Linked DNA regions of Homo sapiens: region 2 is linked to region 1. The links come from fine-mapping of genetic effects on gene expression. A gene starts in region 1. The other region holds a variant in brackets. All regions are shown on one strand. Distances are from middle to middle.

The links.
Region 2: its variant is fine-mapped to the expression of GIPC3 in whole blood (TOPMed, PIP 0.98).

Annotation. Positions count from the first base shown.
Region 1 is chr19:3,581,391-3,589,709 of GRCh38, reverse strand. GIPC3 (GIPC PDZ domain containing family member 3) reads right to left here and starts at 4,232. Exons shown (of 6, transcript NM_133261.3): 1 at 3,888-4,232; 2 at 3,030-3,215; 3 at 2,716-2,896; 4 at 155-267. The coding sequence starts at 4,112.
Region 2 is chr19:3,618,799-3,627,117 of GRCh38, reverse strand. It overlaps CACTIN (cactin, spliceosome C complex subunit), which reads left to right and starts at 328. Exons shown (of 10, transcript NM_001080543.2): 1 at 328-522; 2 at 2,956-3,430; 3 at 6,316-6,411; 4 at 6,846-6,991; 5 at 7,876-8,038; 6 at 8,129-8,243. The coding sequence starts at 356. RefSeq lists enhancers at 1-364, 254-815, 816-1,377, 1,378-1,939, 2,166-2,665 and 2 more. The variant C/T (reference allele first, on the strand shown) is at 4,581.

The DNA.
Region 1 (8,319 bases):
GGTACCAACATCATTGCCCCACTTTTCAATGAGGACCCATTTTGCAGGCAGAGAAACTGAGGCTCCGAGGAGAAGTTCTTACCCAAGACCGCACTGACTCAGTGGAGGAGCTGAAGGTGCAGAAGCCTGGGGAGAGCCCCTCCCCTTCACTCACCGCTTCCTCCACTGTGGCAGCCCCCCCAGAACGAAGCCGCAGGGTCTCCCTCCCGCTGGTCACTTTCGCCTCTACTGGACATTTGCTGGACCGACTTCTCTGGCCAATCATATCTGGAGGGAACAGAGTGAGGGATGGCCATGGGTTCTGGGTGGAGCCACATCTTTGTAAACCCTGGGAGGCCAACAGCCGAGCCTTTCTAGAATCTTCCTCCCCTTCAAAGTCCTCCTTACATCTGTACGGCAAGTCTCCAGAGACCTATTCGAGATTCCACACTTCGCATCCCCAGCAAACTAAATCACAAGTCCAGAATGAGGTGTTGTAATGGAGCAGGTTTAGAACTAACATCCCAGTTCCATGCCCTCACTCTCCCTCTTCTAGCGACTTTCTCTAGAAGGGACTGCTTGGGACCCTCCTTGTGGTAGGATCCTCAATCTAGATATGTTCTTGTCTGGGTTCCAGAACCCGGCTTAGTGTCAGGACTGAGGTGCTAGAAACACACTTAGTCTCAGAGCTGGCCTGGGCTTAAGAGCAGGGCTTGGTCTGAGAGCTGGCCTGGGCTCTAGAGCTGGGTTTAGTCTCAGACTAAGCTTGATTTTTTTTTTTTTTTTTGAGATGTTGTCTTGCTCTGTCACCCAGGCTAGAGTGCAATGGCACGATCTCGGCTTACTGCAGCCTCCACCTCCCAGGTTCAAGCGATTCTCCTGCCTCAGCCTCTCGAGTAGCTGGGATTACAGGCACCTGCCACCATGCCCAGCTAATTTTTTGTATTTTTAGTAGAGACAGGGTTTCACCATATTGGCCAGGCTGGTCTCGAACTCCTGACCTCGTGATGCACCCGCCTTGGCCTTCCAAAGTACTGGGATTACAGGCTTGAGCCACTGCACCCAGCCAGGTTTTTTTTTTTTTTTTTTTGATACGATGGATCACCTGACCTCAGGTGATCCACCTGCCTTGGCCTCTCAAAGTGCTGGGATTACAGGTGTGAGCCACCACGCCCGGCCTAAACTCTATTTTTAGGCATGGCTTTTGGAGTTCACAGCCACGGCAGGGCAGATTCTAGAACCCCATACAGCTCACTCTCCCTGGGACGTCTCTCCATGTGTGCTGGGGCACTTCTAGAATCTCTGTCTCTGTTCTATAGAACAACGCTATCCAAAGGGCCAACCCATGGCTACATGAGGAGAATGTGCTAGTGTGTAAATCAATACACTGTTTTCTTCATTGAGAAAGTCTAGTTATGAAAAAAAATGGGCAGGGTGCAGTGGCTCATGCCTGTAATTCCAGCACTTTCGGAGGCCGAGGCGGGCAGATCACCTGAGGTCGGGAGTTCGAGACCAGCCTGCCAACATGGAGAAACCCCATCTCTACTAAAAATACAAAATTAGCCAGGCATGGTGGCACATGCCTGTAATCCCAGCTAGTTGGGAGGCTGAGGCAGGAGAATCACTTGAACCTGGGAGGCAGAGGTTGTGGTGAGCCGAGATCACACCATTGCACTCCAGCCTGGGCAACAAGAGCAAAACTCCGTCTCAAAAAAAGAAAAAAATTAAAAATTAGCTGGCACGGCCAGGCGCGGTGGCTCACACCTGTAATCGCAGCACTTTGGGAGGCCGAGGTGGGCGGATCACGAGGTCAGGAGATCGAGACCGTCCTGGCTAACACGGTAAAACCTCATCTCTACTAAAATACAAAAAATTAGCCGGGTGTGGTGGCGGGCGCCTGTAGTCCCAGCTACTCGGGAGGCTGAGGCAGGAGAATGGTGTGAACCCGGGAGGCGGAGCTTGCAGTGAGCTGAAATCTAGCCACTGCACTGCAGTCTGGGCGACAGAGCTAGACTCCGTCTCAAAAAAAAAAAAAGAAAAGAAAAGAAAAAAGAAAGGAAAAAAAAAAGAAAAGAAAGAAAACTTTTTTCTCATATTCTCATTCTCTACAATCCACCATGACCTCAAAGCACTGCTTTAAAAGTTCCCAGGCTGCGCGCGGTGGCTCACGCCTATAATCCTAGCATTTTGGGAGACTGAGGCGGGTGGAGCACTTGAGGTCAGAAGTTCGAGACCAGACTGGTCAAGATGGTGAAACCCCGTCTCTACTAAAAATACAAAAATTAGCCAGGCGCAATGGTGGGTGCCTGTAGTCCCAGCTACTCGGGAGGCTGAGGCAGGAGAATCGCTTGAACCCGGGAGGTGGAGATTGCAGTGAGCTGAGATCGCGCCATTGCACTCCAGCCCAGGCAACAGAGTGAGACTCCGTCTCAAAAACAAACAAACAAACAAACAAACAAAAACAAGTCTCCCAGCCTGGCTCCAAAGTGGTTCTGGACGCGTCCTCCTCCAACTCCACTTTACCCAGTCTCTCCCCCACCCCTCCCCCACAGGCTGACTCCATAACAATCTATTAATAGAAACTACCTACGAGTTTCTGATACCCTGCCAGGAGCTCCTTGGCACGCAGCGGGTGCACCTAGAACCTTCCAGCCCGTCCCATCCCCGACCCTCCTCCACCCCAGGCATCCGTAGAACGCACTTCGGGAAGAGCTCCCGCCAGCCCACCCGCCTCACCGAAGGCCCTCTTGGGCTGCACCAGGCGCAGGGTGAAGGGCTGGGACTTGGGCAGCTCCCGGAGCATCTTGGCCACCTCGTAGTGGCGGCAGCCCACAATGGAGTGGTCGTTGATGGCTTCGATGCTGTCACCCACGCACACTGCCTCGATCCGGTTGATGATACTGCCTTCCTTGATTCTCTGCAGGGATCCAGCGTCGCTGGCAGGGCAACCCCAGCCACCCGCCTCCAATCCGCAGAACCCACGTCGACCCAGAGTGGGGGGGGCAGTTGCTGGACCCCAGGAAGCCACCCGCCCACCCCCTCCCGGGCACCTTGATGAAGGCGTAGCCAGCCCCGTTGTCCGTGATGGTCAGCCCCAGAGCATCCTCTGTCTTAGTGACCTCCACCTCCTTGGTCTCGCCTCGCACGTGGGCAAAGATGAAGTCCTCCAGGCCTATCTGACCCCCCAGGAGCTTCTGCATGTCCACTTTGTGGCTGTTGAGGGTGCAGAATAAAATCTTCCCGGGGGAGAAGGAGCCTAGAGTTAGCCAGGGCATGCATCCCCCCACGCAGCCACCCTGTCTGCGCAGGCCCCTGCCCCCAGCGACCAGGATCCCAGCCCATGGGAAAGGGCAGGGCGTGGGACCCCCAGAACAGAGAGAGGAGGGAGAAGGAGACTTCCAGCAGGTGGAGACCCCTCTCCATACCCCGGGACCTCCAGCCCCCAGACCTCCAGGTTTAATCTGCTGGCGCCCCCTGGGGGCTGCAAACCAAACGAACCCGGATTGGAAAAACGCCCAGGAACCCCCCAACCCCACGGCGGCCTCAAACTTCCCATCCCTAAGGGGGCCATCTGGAACCCCAGACCCCAGCTACGCCCAGGAAGCACAGAGGCGCTTCCCCGAGGGCTGGGGTCCGCTCCAAGCTAGGTCTGCGCAGAGGATTTTCTGGAATATCTAGGGGTCCGCTAGTCCTAAGACCTGCCCATCTTTTGCGCAGAGCGTGCAAAGGGGGCCCCTGGGAGTGTGGCACCCCGGGATCTGAGGGCTGGGTCTCTGAGATCCGGCGATTAGGCGGCCACCCCGACGTCTGGGATCCGGGGATCTGGGGTCTCCCGTCCAGGGTCCAAGCTCCCTACCCCTCACCCCATCAGGCGGGTGGTCTTGGGCGCCGGTGTCCGGGCTCCTTACCTCGGTGGGCGCGATCCCGAAGGCTTCGGCGATCTTGGCGTACAGCTCGCGGACGTTGGTGAAGCCCTCGATCTTGCCCGTGGGGCTCCCGTGCGCCAGCTGCGTGCGGAAGACGAGGCGCGGGCGGGCGCGGGGCGCGGCCGGGGGCTCCGAGGGCGCGGGCGGGGGCGCAGACGCGCGCGGGGTCTCGGTCCCCCGGGCCTCCCGGGCCGCTGCTCCCTCCATGGCGGGAGAAGTTCGGCCACCCACCCGGGCCCTCGCCGCCGCCGCCGGATCCGCCGCTTCCTGCAGCCTCCCCTCCCCCGGCCCAGGGCGCGACAGCCGAGACGCCCGGGTAAGGGGATCTGGGAACCCGAGCCTCCCGGGAAGGCGACACCGCGGGGTGCGCAGGGGTGGGTCGGGCCCCAGGTGTCCGGGCCCTGCCAGGGCCAGCTGTGCCCTCCCCGGGGATACCCGCAGTCCGGGGGGGCCTGAGCTCAGGACCCTGGAAGAACAGGGACCACAAATAAGGACAGGGACAGGCCTGGAGCGGTGGCTCACGTCTGTAATTCCAGCACTTTGGGAGGCCGAAGCGGGCAGATGACCTGAGGTCAGGAGTTCAAGACTAGCCTGGCCAACATGGTGAAACCCCGTCTCTACCAAAAATACAAAAATCAGCCGGACGTGGTGGCGGGCGCCTGTAATCCCAGCTACTCGGGAGGCTGAGATCTCTTGAACCCGGGAGGCGGAGGTGGCAGTGAGCTGAGATGGCGCCATTACACTCCAGCCTGGGCAACAAAGCGAGACTCCGTCGCAAAAAAAAAAAAAAAAAAAAAAAAAAGGACAGGGACAGCTGAGGGTGCTGGAGCACTCACCCTCTGCTAGGCGAGGTCATTGTTTTATTTTATTTTATTATTTTTATTTATTTATTTATTTTGAGCTGGAGTCTCGCTCTGTCACCCAGTTTGGAGTTCAGTGGCACGATCTCAGCTCACTGCAACCTCTGCCCACCAGGTTCAAGCAATTCTCATGCCTCGGCCTCCCCAGTAGCTGGGATTACAGGCATATACCACCATGCCCGGCTAATTTTTTTGTATTTTTAATAGAGATGAGGTTTCACCATGTTGGCCAGGATGGTCTTGAACTCCTGACCTCAGGAATCCACCCACCTTAGCCTCCAAAAAAGCTGGGATTACAGGCATGAGCCACCACGCCCAGCCTTTGGTTTGTTTGTTTGATTTTGGAGACGGAGTCTAGCTCTGTCGCCCAGGCTGGAGTGCAATGGCGTGATCTCGGCTCACTGCAACCTCCACCTCCTGGGTTCAAGCGATTCTCCTGCCTCAGCCCCCCTAGTAGCTGGGATTATAGGCGCACACCACCATGCCTGGCTAATTTTTGTATTTTTTAGTAGAGACAGGGTTTCACCATGTTGGTCAGGCTTGTCTCGAACCCCTGACCTCAGGTGATCCACCTGCCTTGGCCTCCCAAAGTGCTGGGATTACAGGCGTGAACCACCGCACCCGGCCGCATTCAGTTTTTTAAAATTTAATTTAGAAACATGATTAATTTTTTGTACAGTTGGGATCTCACTGTGTTGCCCAGGCTGGTCTCAAACTCAAGACCAGGAGGTTCAGGCCATCCTTCAGCCTTGGCCTCCCAAAGTGCTAGGATTACAGATGTGAGCCACTGTGCCCAGCTTCTCTTCAGCATTTAAAGCTACCATCTGACATATCAGATATTTTATTTTATTTTATTTTTTGAGACGGAGTCTCTCTCTCTTGCCAAGGCTGGAGTGCAGTGGCACGATCTCGGCTCACTGCAACCTCTGCCTCCCGGGTTCAAGCGATTCTTCTGCCTCAGCCTCCTGATTAGTTGGGATTACAGGCACCTGCCACCATGCCCAGCTAATTTTTTTTGTATTTTTAGTAGAGACGGGGGTTTCACCATGTTGGCCAGGATGGTCTCGAACTCCTGACCTCAAGGAATCCTCCCGCCTCAGCCTCCCAAAATGTTGGGATTACAGGCTTGAGCCCCAGCCCCCTGCTGATATTTCATTTCATCTTTTGTCCTGTTTGTCCCCAGGACTGGAGGAATGTCAGCTCCAGGAGGGTGGGGGCTGTTCCCCTGCTCTGTCCCCATGCCCAGTGTCCAGGGCACAGTGCCTGGCATACAGCAGGTGCCCAGTGATCTTTGGTGAGGAATGAACGGATGTCCAGGTCACAGATGAAGGAGGAGACCCCAGGCACCAGGAGGCGTTGGTAAAAATCCGCTGGAGTGCAATGTCAGAAACACCTACGTATCCATCAGATTCCTACCCAGGAATGTCGGCTCAATAAACAGCCATCCTGCCTGCAGTGGCGGGCCCTACAGCAGAGCCAGTCACAGCCTCCGCCCAGGAGGAGCCTCACAAACTGAACATGGGGAGAGAAAAGAAAGTGGCAGGAGGGTTTGGACGAGGTAAGAAATTTTATGTAAGGCCGGGCACGGTGGCTCATGCCTGTAATCCAGCACTTTGGGAGGCTGAGGCAGGCGGATTGCTTGAGGTCAGGAGTTCGAGACCAGCCTGGACAACGCAGTGAAACCCCATCTCTACTAAAAACACAAAAATTAGCCAGGTGTGGTGGCGCACACCTGTAGTCCCAGTTACTCGGGAGGCTGAGGCAGAATTGCTCCAACCTGGGAGGCGGAGGTTGCAGTGAGCCAAGATCATGCCACTGCACTCCAGCCTGGACAACAGAGTGAGACTGTCTCAAAAAAAAAAAAAAAAAAAAAAGGCCAGGTCTGGTGGCTCACCCCTGTAATCCCAGCACTTGGGGAGGCCAAGGAAGGCAGATCACAAGGTCAAGAGATCAAGACCATCCTGGCCAACATGATGAAACCCCATCTCTACTAAAAATACAAAAATTAAATTAGCTGAGTATGGTGTCATGTGCCTGTAATCCCAGCTACTTGGAAGGCTGAGACAGGAGAATCACTTGAACCCGGGAGGCGGAGGTTGCAGTGAGCCAAGATCGCGCCACTGCACTCCAGCCTGGGACAGACAAGAGCGTGACTCCGCCTCAAAAAAAAAAAAAGAGAGAGAGAGAGGGATTCACCTGCCTCAGTCTCCCAAGTAGCTGGAATTACAGGCATGCACCACCATCCCTGGCTATTTTTGTATTTTTAGTAGAGACCGGGTTTCACTATGTTGGCCAGGCTGGTCTGGAACTCTTGGTCTCAAGTGATCTGCCTGCCTCGGTCTCCCAAACTGCTGGAATTACAGGCGTGAGCCACTGTGCCCAGCCCACACAGCTTTTTGAATGTACCAAAACCTACTGAATTGTATACTGAAATTTTTTTTAATAAAAAACTGCTGCAAAATGCTATTTTCCAGGCCTGCCTAGAAATGAGAAACTCTAAATTTAAGGTGGTGGTACCTGTGCCAGGACAGGGTGAAACTGGGGTGGGGAGTGAGGGGGGTTGGCAGTATCAGGTTGTCTGACTCGCCCATGATGGCTGTAACAAAGCACCAAAAACTGGGTGTGGTGAGGTGGCTCTTGACTGTGATCCCAGCACTTTGGGAGGCCGAGGCGGGAGGATCACTTGAGCCCAGGAGTTTGAGACCAGCCTGAGGAATAAGGTGAGACCCCATCTCTACAAAAAATACAAAATTAGCGGGGTGTGGTGGCACACACCTGTAGTCCCAGCTACTTGGGAAGCTGAGATGGGAAGATTGCTTGAACCCAGGAGGTATAGGCTGCAGTGAGCTGTGATGGCATCTCTGCACTTCAGCCTGGGTGACAGAGCAAGATCCTGTCTCAACCACAAAGAAACAGCTGGGTGCAGTGGCTTATGCCTGTAATCCTAGCGTTTTGAGAGGCTGGCCCAGATGGATCGCTTGAACCCGGTAGTTCAAGACCAGTCTGGGCAACATAGTGAGACCCCATCTCACAAATACCAATAAATTGACTGGGTATGGTGGCTCATGCCTGTAATTCCAGCACTTTGGGAGGCTGAGGTGGGTTGATCACTTGAGGTCAGGAGTTTGAGATCAGCCTGGGCAACATGGTGAAGCCCCATCTCTACTCAAAATACAAAAATTAGCCAGGCTTGATGGTGAGTGCCTGTAATCCCAGCTACGTGGGAGAATCGCTTCAACCCGGGAGGTGGAGGTTGCAGTGACCTGAGATCCAGCCATTGCACTCCAGCCTAGGCAATAGAGCGAGACTCTGTCTCACAGAAAAATAAATAAATAAATAAATTAAATAAATAATTAGGCAGGAGTGATGGCAGGCACCTGTGGTCCCAGCTACTCACGAGAACCAGGTGGGAGGATCACCTGAGCCCAGGAGGTCGAGGCTGCAGTGAGCTATGATTGCGACACTGCACTCCAGCCTAGGTAACATAGTGGGACCCTGTCTCAAAAAAAAAAAAAAAGCTGTCGGGCACGGTGGCTCACGCCTGTAATCCCAGC
Region 2 (8,319 bases), 37 kb before region 1:
TCGCCTCGGCAGGCCCCTCCCTGCACAAGGTTCCTAGTTTGCCCTTGCCCCGCCCACAGTTTCTCAGGCCCCCTGAGGCGTGGGGACCCGCCTAGGGCTGCCTCCAGCACTGCCTGAAAGGAGACTCCGCCACCCTGGAGGCAACAATCCCACTGGAGTCAATCACGCGGTCCACATTTGCAGACGTAGTGGAAAGTCTGGGGTGTCGGAGTCCTTGCGGGCTGGGGCGACGGGATGGGTTGCTCTTTCCCGGCTCAGGCGCAAACGGGGCAGCCTGGAGAGCGCCGTGGGCGAGGAAGGCCCCCAGCGCAGGCTTCGGCTATTGGTGTTGGTGCCGCGGCCACTGGCCCAGCCGATGGGTCGGGACACACGCTCGCGCTCGCGGTCCGCGGGTCGCCGGGGCCGAAGGCGGCAGAGTCAGAGCGGGAGCCGAAGTCGGAGCAGGAGCCATGGGCGGCGAAACCGACGGCGCCGGGAGGACGAGGGACGGCGCAGACGGAGGCGGCGGAGCCGGGAGCGCAGGTGGGGTCGCTGCGGGAGCAGCGCTGGGGATCCGGCTCCTACCTCAGGAGCGCCCGACCGAGGGTTGGAGATCCCGGGGAACCGGGAAACCCCCGACTTACTCGGGGAGGGCTTCCTAGAGAAGGGGACAATTGACCACCGGTTGGAATTAACCTGGCAGCGGAAGGAAGGCGAGAGGCGTTCCAGGCAGGGGACCGGGCGGTTGGAGGGACAGCCCGGAGCCGGGTGAGCGAGGCGGCGGGGAGGTAACGAGAGATCAGATCATATCATATCGAGCCCTGTGTGCTCAGCACATTAGATCTTGGCTATTAGTCGGAGGGAAATGGAGAGTCTTGAGAGGAGTTTGGGTAGGGGAGTGACGTGGACTGACTTAACTCTGCATACTTTCTGGCTTTGAGGTGGAGAAGGGATGGAGCGGGGTAGGCAGGAGCGGCATCAGAGTAGGACGGCACAATTGTCCAGACAGTAGATGATGGCAGTCTCGATGGGAGGGAGGCTGTAGTCAACCACAGCGGGCAAAGTGCGTAGATTTCAGAGGGATTCTGGAAGTAGAGGAGACAACATTTGCTAATGGAGGTGGGCTGTGGGAGGGAAAAAGACTCGGTGTCAGCTGGCAGGACTCACAGCTGATTCCTAGTGCCTGAATCTCAGCTTCCCCATGGTCCTTTTCTTCTGGAGATGGGGCACTTGGTCGGATTTGCCTTGAGCCGGCTCCAGTACAGAGAAACCAAAATGGGGACAGGGACTGATTCCCAGACCGGGGCCCCAGTGCTGGCTCAGCCCCTTCGTGGCTGACACTCAGGCCAGTCTTGCCCCGCTCTGGGCCAAGTTCACTCATCGGTTGTTGGTTTTTTTGTTTGTTTGTTTTTGAGACGGAGTCTTGCTCTGTCGCCCAGGCTGGGGTGCAGTGGCACGATCTCGGCTGTTACCTCTGCCTCCTGGGTTCAAGCGATTCTTCAGCCTCAGCCTCCCCGGTAGCTGGGGTTACAGGTGCTTGTTGCCACACCCAGCTAATTTTTGAATTTTTTCGTAGAGCTGGGATTTCTCCATATTGGCCAGGCAGGTCTTGAACTCCTGGCCTCAAGTGATCTGCCCGCCTCGGCCTCCCAAAGTGCTGGGATTACAGGCGTGAGCCACCGCGCCTGCCCATAAGTCTTGTTAATGTCATCTTTGTGTTTTTTCGCCTACCATTTTCTGGTATTGGAATTATTCACAATAATTTGCCACTCTAGATATGTAATTAGAATTAATGTTCACGAAAATTCAGTTGAACTTGTGGCCAATATTTAAGGGCTCTGCAATGATTGGTTTCAACATAGTTTAGATTTTTTTGACATGAGCTTAATGGGTAGAGCATTTAACAAAATATTTGGCAGTTCTCTGTGTACAAAGACCCCTAAACGTGACTGAGCGCAGTGGCTCACATCTGTAATCCCAACACTTTGGGAGGCTGAGACAGGAGGCTTGCCTGAGCCCAGGAGTTCAAGACCAGCCTGGGCAACATAGCAAGACCCCTCTGTACAAAAAAATGTAAAGAGTTACCTGGGCGTGGTGGTGTGTGCCTGTAGTCCCCGCTACTCAGGAGGCTGAGGCGAGAGGATGGCTTGAGCCCAGGAGGTCAAGGCTGCAGTGAGCTCTGATCATGCACTCCAGCCTGTGTGACAGAGGGAGACTCTGTCTCTAATAAATAAAAATATAGACCTTGTCTCTAGTAGACTCTGTGTCTAGTAGACCTTGTCTCTAATAAATAAAATTAAAGGCCCCTGAACCACCCCTGAGGTTGTGCATCTTCCATTCCCTGCGCTCTACTCTGTTAACTCCTGTCCATCCTGTGGGACTAGTTCAAATACCACTTCCATCTAGGAAGCCCTCCCTTGACAGCCTAAATGTGTTCGGGTCCCCTGGTTCGTACCCTTATAATTCCTGCGCCACCAGCCCCAGCCACCTCCCTGCCCGCGCCTCCTCCCTCTCCCCCACACTCTGTCTCAGCCATACAGCCTCCTTGTTGTTCTTAGAATGTGGCAGGTCAGTGCCTGCCTCTAGGCCCTCGCTCTTGCTCTGCCTCGAGCACTCTCCCTCCGAATCCACCCATCGCTGCCTCCCCACTCCCTCCAGACCTTGGCTCAGTGTCAGCTCCTGAGAGAGCCCCTCTCTGACCTCGGCCCTGCAGCCCCAGCCCCTGTGCTCGGCATTGCTACTCTTTGTGGCTTCTGCCTCTGCCTAGTGTTGCGTGGTGTGTTTATTTGTTGATGTCTTCCTTGTTGGGGCCCACCAGAGGGTGAGCCCAGGAAGGCAGAAGCCATCGGTATTTGGGTCACTGCTGTGTCCCCAGAACCTAGAACAGTGCCTGCTCCCCCACGGGCACCCAGTAAGCATCTGTGGAGCAGATGACAGCTGCAGGCACTGAGCAGGCATCCATGGTCCTCTCCGCAGGTCAGATTCAGAGGAAGAGCGGTGGCAGCGCTCAGGGATGCGAAGCCGGAGCCCCCCGCGGCCCAAGTGGCACTCAAGAGATGGGTCCTCTCAGTCGGACTCAGGAGAGGAGCAGTCACGGGGCCAGTGGGCTCGCCGGCGACGGCGCGCACGCTCGTGGTCTCCTAGCTCCTCAGCATCCAGCTCCGCGTCTCCAGGGCGATCCCAGAGCCCCCGGGCGGCCGCGGCTGCCCTGAGCCAGCAGCAGAGCCTGCAGGAGCGGCTGCGGCTGCGGGAGGAGCGGAAGCAGCAGGAGGAGCTGATGAAGGCCTTCGAGACGCCCGAGGAGAAGCGCGCACGGCGGCTGGCCAAGAAGGAGGCCAAGGAGCGCAAGAAGCGGGAGAAGATGGGCTGGGGTGAGGAGTACATGGGCTACACCAACACCGACAACCCCTTCGGAGACAACAACCTGCTGGGCACCTTCATCTGGAATAAGGTGGGCCCCGCCGGGTGGTGGCCTCTGTCCCTGTAGCATTTCCACTGTTTCTGGAGACCCCAACACTTGAGACACTCCCAGCCTGCCCTTGATCGTGCAAGAGTTGGTTTTACACACACACGCATAAGCAAGCTTCTGCCGCTATCAGCTTTCTTTTTTGACACAGGGTCTCGCTCTGTCGCCCAGGCTGGAGTGAAGTGGTGTGATCTCGGCTCACTGCAAGCTCCACCTCCCGGGTTCATGCCATTCTCCTGCCTCAGCCTCCTGAGTAGCTGGGGCTACAGGCGCCCGCTACCACGCCCGGCTAATTTTTTGTATTTTTAGTAGAGACAGGGTTTCACCATGTTAGCCAGGATGGTCTCGATCTCCTGACCTTGTGATCCACCCGCCTTGGCCTCCCAAAGTGCTGGGATTACAGGCGTGAGCCACCACGCCCGGCCAGCTTTCTTTTTTGACTCAGGGTCTCGCTCTGTCACCCAGGCTGGAGTGCAGTGGCGTGATCGTGGCTAACTGCAGCCTTGACCTCCTGGCCTCAAGCGATCCTCCTACCTCAGCGTTTTGACTTGCTGGGACTACAGGCACCACCACCATGCCCGGCTAATTTTTTATTTTTTTGTAAAGATGGAGTCTCACTATGTTGGCCAGGCTGGTCTCGAACTCCTAAGCTCAAGTGATTTTCCCACCTCGGCCTCCCAGAGTTCTGGGATTACAGGCATGAGCCACTGCGCCCAGCCCACCGTCATTTTCTTGCCATTAACTGTGTCTCTTGCGGTGTAAGCTTCAGCCATTCTTTGCCCCGAACACCAGCCCAACCTGAAACCTATCTAGAGAGCCAGCTCTTGGCATCATGTACCCAGGACAGGGTTCCACAGTTCCAGGCGCTCTGTCGTCTGAGCTGGTTCTTTCGTTCTGCGCCTGCCATTTAGCCACCAGTCACACCAGTGGCATAAGACAACAGAACTTATCATCTCTTCGTTCTGGAGTCCAGAAGTCCAAAATCAAGGCGTGGGCAGGTGTGGGCAGGACCCCACTCCCTCTGGGGGCCGAGGGGAGGCCCCTCCTGCCTCTCCCAGCTCCAGTCATGGCCGGTGATTCCTGGGCCCTCCCTGGCTTGCAGCCGCAGAACCCGGCCTGTTCCTGTGTTGTGTGG[C/T]GGTCTGCCTTCCCGTCTCTGTCTCCATACGGCCTTCTGCTCTGTGTGTCTGTGTGTAAATGTTCCTCTTCCCATGAGGACACCAGGCATTGGATGAGGGCCCGCCACCTCCAGGATGACCTCATCTTACCTACGTCTGCAAGACCTCATCACTTTTTTTTTTTTTTTTTTTTTGAGATGGAGTCTCACTCTGTTGCCCAGACTAGAATGCAAAGGCGCAATCTCGGCTCACTGCAACCTCCGCTTCCTGGGTTCAAGTGATTCCCCTGCCCCAGCCTCCCAAGTAGCTGGAATTACAGGCGGGTGCCACCACACTCAGCTAATTTTTGTATTTTTAGTAGACAGAGTTTAACCATGTTGGTCAGGCTGGTCTCGAACTCCTGACCTCAAGTGATCTGCCCGCCTTGGCCTCCCAATATGCTGGGATTACAGGTGTCAGCCACCATACCTGGCCAAGACCTCATTTCACATGGGGTCATGATTACAGCTGCAGGGGTTCAGACGGGGATGTGCCTGTGGGGGACACAGCTCATCTGAAGCAGCATCCACTTGTGGAGGGGGTGGAGCAGGCAACGTGTGGGCTGGGCCGACTGCACCTGCTCGCCGGTTGCGCAGTTGGGAGCTGTGGGGTCTCCAGGTGGCTTCTGCCCGATGTCGTCTGAGAACACAACGAGCTCCTTCCGCCTCGGGGCCCTCACACTGCCGCGCCCCTGCCTGGACATGCTCTGCCCCTTCCCCGGCTGTTCTCTTCCGTCAGGCCTCAACTGACACATCCCCTCTTGAGAGACCCCTTCCTGGCCCCTTGCTCCCCAGACCCCCCAGAGTTCTTTATTGAGGCACACACTGCTGCCTGGCACTTCATCGCCACCATGTGCTGTGCACCTGCGGTGTGCTGGGCACCACCGTGAGCTCTGGGCGGGCAGCCATGGAGGAGGAAGATGTGGTCATCGTTGACGCCTGTGGAAGCGGCCCCAGGCTGGGTTGGATAGACCACAGAGTGGCCCGGGTGTCTGGGGGTGGTCCCCAGCCAGGCAGCCTGTGTCCCTGGAGGCAAGTTCTGGGCGGCAGGGGTTCCTGGAACCCCCTCATGGCGACGGGGCACCGGGAGCCTGAGGAAGGTGGTCGGGAAGTGGGGGCTCCGCGCCAGGCTCTCAGACAGCTGCTGGAAGAAGCCAGCTTTGAGGGTCTCCAGGCTGGGACAAGCCCATCAGTGGCCACCCCTGTGCCCCGCTGTGTGGGCGGGGCCCCATGACCCCACAGGTTTGCTTTCAGAGCTGCTGCTGCCCCCACTCACTGTTCCTGCCCTGTCCCACGTGCAGTGGGGGACCCTGACTTGCTGAGGGCGTGGCCTTCACGTCCGAAGCACTCAGACTCCCGGGTAAAGCGAGTCAGCAGGCCCCGAGCAAGGCTCTTCTGTTGGGGGCTGGGGTGGCCCCGAGCAAGGCCCTCCTGTTGGGAGTTGGGGCGGCCCCGAGTGAGGCCCTCCTGTTGAGAGTTGGGGTAGCCCCTTCTTACCCTTTGCATACATCTCACTCCCAGTGGGGGCTCCATGTCTGCACTGAATTGGATGCACTGGGTTTCAGGAGTGTTAAGGAGGGGGTGGAAGACGTGCAGTGCTGGCAGGTCACCTCTCTCTGCAAAACAAGGGCCCTGGTCAATCTCTTGGACGAAGGAGCTGAGGAGGGGGGCGAGGGGGCGGGTCTGTGCTCAGGGCAGGTGTGCCTGGTGCTTCCAGGCCCTGGAGAAGAAGGGGATCAGCCACCTGGAGGAGAAGGAGCTGAAGGAGCGGAACAAGAGGATCCAGGAGGACAACCGGCTGGAGCTGCAGAAGGTAGGCACCCTGCCAGCCCACTGGGCAGGGCCCTCCCTTTCCAGGGCCTGGAGGCCCGCCCCCTTTGGCAGGACTTGAGGGGCTTAAGTGGGAAGTCCTGGGGGCTGGCTTCAGGTAAGGCTGGATCCAGGGGCTCAGACCATGGCCCCAGGAAACTGTTTCCCTCCACCTCTCGGCTCTGCTGGCCTCGGGCCTTCACTCCCACATGCTCCCTTCAGGGTGGCCGAGAGGGCCCCAGCTGATCTGAGCTGCTGAGTCTCGGGCAGGAGGGCCCTCTCCCTTCCCAAGGTCTGTCCACCAGCCCAGGCATCTCCGGACCAATCCCTGTGCCCAGGGCAGCTGGGTGAAGGCTGGGCCCCCATCATCACAGCCCCTCCCCCCGCAGCCCTGCAGACCGCACGGTCCCCGCTGCCCTCAGCCTCCTGTGCCTGCAGGTGAAGCAGCTGCGGCTGGAGCGGGAGCGGGAGAAGGCCATGCGCGAGCAGGAGCTGGAGATGCTGCAGCGCGAGAAGGAGGCAGAGCACTTCAAGACATGGGAGGAGCAGGAGGACAACTTCCACCTCCAGCAGGCCAAGCTGCGGTGCGCTGGGGCCTCCCCCTCCCTCCGACCCAGACTTGGAGCCAGGGCCGGGCACTGGCTGTCACTCTGGAAGCCACTGCTCTCCCACCCTTCAGGGTCCCACACGGCACTTCCTGGGACCTTCCCTTCCTGACCCCTTCCCGGGCGGCAAGGCTTCTGTCTCCTGCCCTCCCCTGCTGGGCAGGGTGCAGAGGAGACGGGCCCAGGTGAACGGCACCCCACGCATGCTGGACGCCAGTCCTGCACTGACTGCAGTTGTCCCTCCCACACTCCACCCAGGAGGGTGGCACCCCCATCCGCCTGGTTTACAGACAAGCTGAGGCTCCGGGGTGTCCCTGCTTGCCTTGGGCCCCGTGGCGGGTGACATCAGGCTCCTCCCAGCTCGGGCCTCCCTGGTGACGGGTTCCCTTGGGTTGGACCAGGGCCCGCCTGCAACGCGTACCCCCCTGCAGGCCCAGAACAGAAACCCGGCTCTCTGCCCCGAGTGGTCTGCCTGGGGGAGGAGGTGGTTGCAAGGCAGTGACTACTCTGGTCCCCCAGCCTGCCTCTGCTTCAGCTCCTCCACTCTTCCCCATCACAGCCCACATAGAAGCCGCCATCCTGGGCACATCCCAGAGGCCCTCCAGGAAGCCCCTCCCACCTGGCCCACCTCCGGGTCCACGCTGCTTGCACTTTGTCTGCACTGCTGGCCTGCGCCCTTTGGCTGACCCGGCTCACTCTACCTTATGCCTCCTCCTCCTCCTCCTCCAGGAAGCCTTCCCTGACCACCCCCAACGGGTCAGGCCCCTCCTCGGCTCCCACTGGTGTGGTCACCCCAAGGGCAGGGTCTTTAGCATGGAGGGCACAGCCCAGGCTCTGATGCCACCTTCCCCTGCTCCCCACAGTTCCAAGATCCGCATCCGGGACGGGCGGGCCAAGCCCATCGACCTGCTGGCCAAGTACATCAGCGCTGAGGATGACGATCTGGCCGTGGAGATGCATGAGCCCTACACGTTCCTCAACGGCCTCACCGTGGCCGACATGGAGGACCTGCTGGAGGATATCCAGGTACCCAGCCCCACCCGATGCTCCTCTGACCTGCACCCTCACCCCCACCCCAGCCACACCCGTGTCCTGACCCCTGCCCCCTGCCCCCAGGTCTACATGGAGCTGGAGCAGGGCAAGAACGCCGACTTCTGGCGGGACATGACCACCATCACCGAGGACGAGATCTCCAAGCTCCGCAAGCTGGAGGCCTCGGGCAAGGGGCCAGGTAACGGCGGGCATGGGCCTGGGCTCCAGGGGAGCTGCGGGGGCTACAGTGTTCACCCAGAAGCCTCAGACTTGCT